2 separate regions of the Homo sapiens genome follow, and region 2 is linked to region 1. Evidence: fine-mapped expression QTL. A gene starts in region 1. The other region holds a variant in brackets. All regions are shown on one strand. Distances are from middle to middle. Region 1 holds the start of SAMD1 (sterile alpha motif domain containing 1). Region 2 overlaps ADGRL1 (adhesion G protein-coupled receptor L1).

Region 1 (4,502 bases):
ACATGTTCAGTGGGTTGCTTGCTAGAATTTTTTTAAAAAAACAACAATTTAAAATCTTATTTAAGTTCCACCAGTGCCTCCCTCCCTCCTTCCTCTACTCCCACCCCTCCCATGTCCCCCCATTCCTCAAATCCATTTTAAAGAGAAGCAGACTGACTTTGGAAAGGGAGGCGCTGGGGTTTGAACCTCCCCGCTGCTAATCTCCCCTGGGCCCCTCCCCGGGGAATCCTCTCTGCCAATCCTGCGAGGGTCTAGGCCCCTTTAGGAAGCCTCCGCTCTCTTTTTCCCCAACAGACCTGTCTTCACCCTTGGGCTTTGAAAGCCAGACAAAGCAGCTGCCCCTCTCCCTGCCAAAGAGGAGTCATCCCCCAAAAAGACAGAGGGGGAGCCCCAAGCCCAAGTCTTTCCTCCCAGCAGCGTTTCCCCCCAACTCCTTAATTTTATTCTCCGCTAGATTTTAACGTCCAGCCTTCCCTCAGCTGAGTGGGGAGGGCATCCCTGCAAAAGGGAACAGAAGAGGCCAAGTCCCCCCAAGCCACGGCCCGGGGTTCAAGGCTAGAGCTGCTGGGGAGGGGCTGCCTGTTTTACTCACCCACCAGCTTCCGCCTCCCCCATCCTGGGCGCCCCTCCTCCAGCTTAGCTGTCAGCTGTCCATCACCTCTCCCCCACTTTCTCATTTGTGCTTTTTTCTCTCGTAATAGAAAAGTGGGGAGCCGCTGGGGAGCCACCCCATTCATCCCCGTATTTCCCCCTCTCATAACTTCTCCCCATCCCAGGAGGAGTTCTCAGGCCTGGGGTGGGGCCCCGGGTGGGTGCGGGGGCGATTCAACCTGTGTGCTGCGAAGGACGAGACTTCCTCTTGAACAGTGTGCTGTTGTAAACATATTTGAAAACTATTACCAATAAAGTTTTGTTTAAAAAAAAAGTGTCGCTGGTGTTCTCGACTTCGATCACCCACCCACACACCCCCAGGGGGTTGGAAAGGGAATTTCGGACCCCAGCGTGCAGGCCGATCAGGTCCTGGCTTGAAGTCCTTGTAACCAGGGTTTAGCTGAAATTCCGGCACTCCTTCGGCCCCGCAGGAGAAACGAGCGTCAAACTGCCCTTTGACCCCAGATTCGGGGTCCCCAAATCTGCGGCGCGCCCCCTCGGCGTCCAGCCCGGGACCGAGAGGGCGCTCTAGGGAGGCGCTGGGGCTGGCGCGCCAGGAGGCCGAGCGGCGGCGGGGGCGGCCCTGGCAGGGGGAGTAGAAGGGGGAGAGGGTGCGCGCCCCCCTTCCCGCATCCTCAGCGCCGGGCCAGGCGCGCCTGAGGGACGCGGGGGCGGCGGCAGCAGGAGGGTCCCCGCAGCACCCTGCGAGCGCGGCAGCCCCGGCCCGCGGGCGGCGAGTTCCCGGTAAGTGCGGTCCCGAGAGCGGAGCGCGCTGGAGAGGCGTGGAGAGGGGGGCTGGGCGCCGGGGACGTCTGGGTCCCGCGCCCAATGGCTGGAGGGCGGCCGAGCGCCGCCCGCCCGCCCTGCCCGCCCCCTCTCCACTCCCCCCGGCACTCCCCTCCCCCTCCCCCGCCCGCCGCTTTCCCCCGCCCCCGCCCCGGGCCAACTCCGCGGCGCCTCCTTAAAAAGCGCGCGGGAGTTGTAAGGGGGGGCCGGAGCGAGCCGGAGTGAGCGAGAGCGCAGGGTAAAGGGGGCGGGCGGGGGGCCCGGGCTCCACCTTAAAAGCGGGCGCGTGGGGGTGGGAGGGAGGAAGGCGGGCGGCGGGGAGGAGGGAGGGAGGGAAGGAAGGGGGGCCGGAGTGTCCCGGGCGCAGGGCGCGCGTGCGGCGGCGGCGGCGGCGGGGAGGGGCCGGCCGCGCCGCGCTCCCCTCCTCCCCCTCGCATCCCCGGCCCCGCGCGCGCCCAGCAGAAGCGGGTCTGTGTGTGCGTGCGTGCGAGTGAGTGAGTGTGTGCATATTTTTTTCTCTCTTTTCTTTCTCTCTCACTGTTTTTTCCTCTCTCTCTCTCTCCCTCTCTCTCTCTTTTTTTTTTTTTTTTTTTTGCAAAGAAACAGCAGCGCCGCCGCCGCTCCGCCGAGGCGCTGCGCCCCCCGGGGGGGGAGGCGGAGGAGGCGGGCAGCGGCGGAGGGAGGGGAGCCGGGGAGGGGGGCGCCGCGCTGGGAGGGAGGCAGCGCGCACGGTGCAGCCGGGCCGGGCGGGAGGCATGGCGGGGCCCCCGGCCCTACCCCCGCCGGAGACGGCGGCGGCCGCCACCACGGCGGCCGCCGCCTCGTCGTCCGCCGCTTCCCCGCACTACCAAGAGTGGATCCTGGACACCATCGACTCGCTGCGCTCGCGCAAGGCGCGGCCGGACCTGGAGCGCATCTGCCGGATGGTGCGGCGGCGGCACGGCCCGGAGCCGGAGCGCACGCGCGCCGAGCTCGAGAAACTGATCCAGCAGCGCGCCGTGCTCCGGGTCAGCTACAAGGGGAGCATCTCGTACCGCAACGCGGCGCGCGTCCAGCCGCCCCGGCGCGGAGCCACCCCGCCGGCCCCGCCGGCGCCGCCACAGCAGCAGCAGCCGCCGCCGCCGCAGCCACAGCCGCCGCCGGAGGGGGGCGCGGTGCGGGCCGGCGGCGCGGCGCGGCCCGTGAGCCTGCGGGAAGTCGTGCGCTACCTCGGGGGCAGCGGCGGCGCCGGCGGTCGCCTAACCCGCGGCCGCGTGCAGGGGCTGCTGGAGGAGGAGGCGGCGGCTCGAGGCCGTCTGGAGCGCACCCGTCTCGGAGCGCTTGCGCTGCCCCGCGGGGACAGGCCCGGACGGGCGCCGCCGGCCGCCAGCGCCCGCCCGTCTCGCAGCAAGGTGAGCGCGCCGGGGAGCGGGGGCGCCGCGCGGTGGGCAGGTGCGGGCGAAGTTGGTGGCGGGGGCGCGAGTCCCGGGAGGAACTGGGTGGCGGGTGGCTGGGGCTTTGCGCGCGTTTCCTGCGGGCTCGGTGCGTGGTGACCTTGGCAAGTGATTGAATCTCCCGGAGCCTCAGTTTCCTCCGCTGTAAACGCGGTTTAATAACAGTAGCGACCCCTTGGGGTTGTTGAGCGAGTTTAGTAAGATTTGGTTGTCGAGGGCTTTAGTTAACACAGAGCCTGGCACGGAGTGAATGCGTAAAAGTTAGTCCGTATTGTTCTTAAAGGTGGAATCGGTTCCTCCTCCCCACCGCCCGGACGCCACAGTCAGGGTCTGGGATTAGAACAGCTACTAATTTTGCATGCTTCTCTCCTCGGCTCCAGAGAGGTGGAGAAGAGCGAGTACTTGAGAAAGAAGAGGAAGAAGATGATGATGAAGATGAAGATGAAGAAGATGATGTGTCAGAGGGCTCTGAAGTGCCCGAGAGTGACCGTCCTGCAGGTGCCCAGCACCACCAGCTTAACGGCGAGCGGGGACCTCAGAGTGCCAAGGAGAGGGTCAAGGAGTGGACCCCCTGCGGACCGCACCAGGGCCAGGATGAAGGGCGGGGGCCAGCCCCGGGCAGCGGCACCCGCCAGGTGTTCTCCATGGCAGCCATGAACAAGGAAGGGGGAACAGGTAAGGATCCCTCTGGGTGGGGAAGAGTGCTAGGTGGAGAGGAACTCAGCCCGAAGACAAAGCCAAAGACAGGTGTTTTTTTCCTTCCCAGCTTCTGTTGCCACCGGGCCAGACTCCCCGTCCCCCGTGCCTTTGCCCCCAGGCAAACCAGCCCTACCTGGGGCCGACGGGACCCCCTTTGGCTGTCCGTAAGTTGGGGTATTGGAGACATGGGGGTGCTGCTCAGGTGTGTGGTACAGCCAGAGAGACATCCGTGTTCACTGGTGTCTGTTTGTTTTGATGCAGTCCCGGGCGCAAAGAGAAGCCATCTGATCCCGTCGAGTGGACCGTGATGGATGTCGTCGAATATTTTACTGAGGCTGGATTCCCGGAGCAGGCGACAGCTTTCCAAGAGCAGGTGAGTTTCCAGCCCAGGACTACACACTGACAGACACAGAGGGCCTCCCTGGGATGTGCCCTGATCCCGGCTCTCTCTGTTCCTGTCCCACCCAGGAAATTGATGGCAAATCTTTGCTGCTCATGCAGCGCACAGATGTGCTCACCGGCCTGTCCATCCGCCTCGGGCCAGCCCTGAAAATCTACGAGCACCACATCAAGGTGCTTCAGCAAGGCCACTTTGAGGATGATGACCCCGATGGCTTCTTAGGCTGAGCGCCCAGCCTCACCCCTGCCCCAGCCCATTCCGGCCCCCATCTCACCCAAGATCCCCCAGAGTCCAGGAGCTGGACGGGGACACCCTCAGCCCTCATAACAGATTCCAAGGAGAGGGCACCCTCTTGTCCTTATCTTTGCCCCTTGTGTCTGTCTCACACACATCTGCTCCTCAGCACGTCGGTGTGGGGAGGGGATTGCTCCTTAAACCCCAGGTGGCTGACCCTCCCCACCCAGTCCAGGACATTTTAGGAAAAAAAAAATGAAATGTGGGGGGCTTCTCATCTCCCCAAGATCCTCTTCCGT
Region 2 (4,000 bases), 57 kb before region 1:
AGCCAGGACTTCTCCGTGTACGTGCATCCCCAGTCCCCGCCGGGGCGGGCGGGCCGCCAGAGCAGCTTTTTACAATCCAGAGACAGAAAACAAAATCTAGATGCAACAGCGAAACAAAGAACCCATTTCCTTCCTGGCACCCTCCTTTCCTGCTCCGCCTGCCCGGCATCATCAGCCCTTCTGGGGCGTGTACCTCTCACTGCCTGCCCCAGGACCAGAGGCCTGTCTCCCCCTTCCCTCCCCACCGGCCCGGGGGAGACCTCTTCACACCCAAAGATGCTTTGTCAAGATGGCTGCGCTGTCCCTTTGAGTTCCTGCTTCTTGTATATTGCTCTGGGGACTCTCGCCGGGGAAGATGGGGCTGATTTCCCACCTAGAGAGGTTGATGGCAGAAGGAAAATGGGGAGGCACTGGGGTTGTGGAGGGCATGGGTATGGCTGAGGAGGGTGCTGGGAACGGCAAGGCGGTCTGGGGGATGGGGAGGGGCAAAGGTGAGAGATCACCTTCCCTATCCTCCACCTTCCCGCAGGGAAGACGAAGCCAGGTGCCAGGGCTGGGGTCGGGACACCCATGTTCTGGGCGGCTTGACCCCAAATCCCAGACCCCGGAAGCTCCAGGCTCGGGATGTGTCCTGAGCACCTGTCCCGGCCCCCTCCTCTCCAGCCTGTCAGGCCAGCCTCCCCAGCCCCCTTCCCTCAACTCTAGGGGCAGCATAGCCCCAGGCCACCCTAGCCCAGCCCCTGCATTGCCGTTTCCCCAGAGGTGGCCCCTCCACCTCTGCTCTGACCTCTCCCCATCTCTCTGCCCCTCCTTTTCTCACAAGTGCCATGAGTTTTCAAACATCTTCGGGTCTCAGCCTGCTGCTGCCATGAACTTTGTTGGGTTAAGGGGGAGGGGCTCTAGGAAGGAACTGGGGGGAAGGGGACAGGTAGGTGGCTGGAGGGACCCTTTTTGCTGCTAGAAAGCCCCTCCCTTCTCCCGGGGAGCTGGGGCTGGCTTGTCCCCATCAATTAGGGGAGAAGGGGTCAGACCAAAGATGGTGGTTTGTCCCGTGTAAGGGAACAGGTGTGGGGAAGAGGTGGGGTTGGGTTCCAACTCTGGCTTTTTCTGGTAGAAAGGCCTAACCCATTACACCAGAAGACCATGGGTGAAGTCTAGATGGGGAGGAGAAGTGAGGCCAGGGACAGTCTTGCCAGACGACTCTGAGGAGGGCAAGGGACAGTTCCATGGCCCTTCCCGGACTGCACTAGGCTGGGAGCTCTGTTGTGTGGAGGGGTGGTCAGAGGTCTGTGAAGAGCGGGCAGGAGGCATGAGCAGGCGAGGAGCTGGCCTGTCCCGGGAAGCAGCCCAGCCTGTGGCTGCCCCCGACACCAGGAGGAGGGCCAGGAGAGTTCCAGGGGGCTGAGGCACACAGAGAGGCCAACTTCCTCCCTGCCCAGCCTTCCTTGTATCTCTCCAGACTCGGACAATCAAAGGGAGAGAGGGTGTATCGGGTCCTGTTCCAGCCGGCATCGCCGGGTGGCTTCCAGGCCTCAGAGCTGTGTGGCAGGGCCCCCTGCTGGGGCTGGACATCACTGCAGTCCAGTGCAAAGCCGCCCCCAGAGCCCAGGTGTCCCCCCAACCTAACCAGACCTGGTGCCTTGACGCCCCCACCCCAGCTGGGACGGTACAGAGAAGGGTCTTGGTTTCCTCTCCTACTCCCTTCCTTAGGCTCCTGAACTCGTTTGCTCCTAAATCTTGTTAATTCTTTTTCTCTGGATTTTGGTTTCTTTTGGCTTTCCCTTGCCTTCCCCTTTCTCTGTCTCCAACACTCTTTCCCCATGTCTTTCTGGCTGTCTCTATGTTCCTCTTCTCTTATCCTCAACTTTCTGTCCATTCGGGCCTCCTCCCCACCTCCCACGCCCCAGCCCCTCCCTCCTTGGTCTCCTTTTCGATATGCCAAACCAATTTTGGGTCGAGTGCATTTAACGAGAACAAAACAAAAGGCTCATAACAACAAGAACGTTTCAGAAAAAAACAAAAAGTTTTAAAAAAATTGTTGAGTCAAAAAGTCAAACAATAAAGAAATTAAGATTTCTTGGAATGACAAGAGTGGTGTGACTTCTTGAGTGGGGGAGTAAGAAATGGGTGAATAGCTGGGCGCGGTGGCTCAGGCCTGTAATCCCAGCATTTTGGGAGGCCGAGGTGGGTGGATCACTTGAGGCCAGGAGTTTGAGACTAGCCTAGTCAACATGGTGAAACCCCATCTCTACTAAAAAGACAAAATTAGCTGGGCGTGGTGGCAAGCACCTGTGGTCCCAGCTACTTGGGAGGCTAAGGCAGGAGAATTGCTTGAACCCGGCTGGGAGGCAGAGGTTGCAGT[A/G]AGCCAAGATCGTACCACTGCACTCCAGCCTGGGCTATAGAGTGAAATTCTGTCTCAAAAAAGAAAGAAAGAAATGGTTGAGCAGATCTGCACAGGGGCGTCCCCATGGGCTCTGGTCTGCACTCGAGCATTCAGAACCCCTGGCAGAGGCTTGACAGTTATAGAATCATTCACGTTTATGAGACCTTGGTAAGTTCCTGGGCCTGGTGGAGCATTTCATGTGCAGTTTCTCTGAATCCTCACAAAATCCTCCCAGATGGAGACAGCGATTAGAGTTCCATTTTACAGATGGGGAAACTGAGGCTTACAGCCCTCAGATGCATGCCCAAGTCTCTCTGACCAGGCCACTGTTCCATGCTGTCTCACAGAAGCCCTTCTTGGCCCAGACGTCTGTCCCCAGGCTGTACTAGAGCAGAGCTCAGGAATTTTACACTGTGATGTCTCATTACAATTGCCATTCCTACACTCCCACACGCTACTGGCAGGGAGTGCTTTCAAACTTGACACACGGTGGAATTGCATCATGTGTATTTCACGTTGTCAGTTCACCAACGAACTGCCCATGCTCAGAGAGAGGCATAACTACTCAAACTACAAGGATCCTTTTCCGGGCCCCTCTGCCTTAAAAAGATACCTGTGTCTAGGACACCACCCACCTCCCCACAACAGCCACTCCTTCCCAGTCTTCATGGCTGGCTCCTTCTCATCTGACCTCCTAATGATGGGGAACCCAGGGGCTCAGTCCTTAGACCTTTTCTCTCACTCCCTGGAAGGTTTCACCCCATCTCATGGTTTGAAATGCCTCCGGGTGGGTGCAGTGGCTCATGCCTGTAATCCCAACACTTTGGGAGGCCGAGGCAGGCAGATCACGAGGTCAGGAGTTCGAGACCAGCCTGGCCAACAAGGTGAAATCCCGTCTCTACTAAAAACACAAAAATTAGCTGGGTGTGGTGGCGAGCGCCTGTAGTCCCAGCTGCTCAGGAGGCTGAGGCAGGAGAATCGCTGGAACCCAGGAGGCGGAGGTTGCAGTGAGCTGAGATCGCACCACTGCACTCCAGCCTGGGCGACTGAGACTCCATCAGAAGAAAGAAAAGAAAGAGAAGAGAAAGGAAAAGAGAAACGGAGAAAGAAAGAGAAAGGAAGGAAAGAAGAAAAAGAAAAGAAAGAAAAGGAAAGAAAGAGAAAGAGAGAGAGAGAGAGAAAGAAACGCTACCTATACACTGATCACCCCCAAACGTAGCTCTCCAGCCTGAACTCCTACCTGAGCTCCAGATTTACATATATTCACCTACCTACCCCATCTCTCTGCCTGGTATCTGGTAGGATCTCAAACTAACCTGTCCTAAACTGAGACCCTGGCCTCTCCCACCCCCATCTCTACCACTGCCACCACTGTAGTTCTTCCCACGTGAGGCTTTGAGGCTTCCTCACCTCAACTAAAAGTGAGTCCATCCATACCTTGATTCAAGCTAAAGACCTTGGAGCTTCTCTTGAACTCATCTTGTTTGATACCCCACATCTAATTTGACAGTAAATGCAATGGTGGCTCTAACTTCTAAATATCCAGAATTAATTAGTTCTCACCCATCTTTCACCAGAGCCACTACAACAGTCCCCTAAATATTATAGCTCGTTTGT

The links. PIP is the estimated chance that this variant, and not a neighbour inherited with it, causes the effect.
Region 2: its variant is the best candidate, but not a certain one, in a credible set for the expression of SAMD1 in blood mononuclear cells (TOPMed, PIP 0.51).

Annotation. Positions count from the first base shown.
Region 1 is chr19:14,088,111-14,092,612 of GRCh38, reverse strand. It overlaps SAMD1 (sterile alpha motif domain containing 1), which reads left to right and starts at 1,862. Exons shown (of 5, transcript NM_138352.3): 1 at 1,862-2,828; 2 at 3,251-3,545; 3 at 3,637-3,733; 4 at 3,831-3,942; 5 at 4,038-4,502. The coding sequence starts at 2,193. The coding sequence ends at 4,196. PRKACA (protein kinase cAMP-activated catalytic subunit alpha) reads left to right here. Exons shown (of 10, transcript NM_002730.4): 10 at 1-925. RefSeq lists silencers at 1,127-1,456, 1,507-1,556, 1,697-1,916, 2,247-2,506, 2,807-2,856 and an enhancer at 3,501-4,010.
Region 2 is chr19:14,145,826-14,149,825 of GRCh38, reverse strand. ADGRL1 (adhesion G protein-coupled receptor L1) reads left to right here. Exons shown (of 23, transcript NM_014921.5): 23 at 1-2,083. All of the region lies in intron 1 of ADGRL1-AS1 (ADGRL1 antisense RNA 1), which reads right to left. Among named protein-coding and RNA genes, the nearest start is that of ADGRL1-AS1, 11 kb to the right of the region's middle. RefSeq lists an enhancer at 1,205-1,948. The variant A/G (reference allele first, on the strand shown) is at 2,363.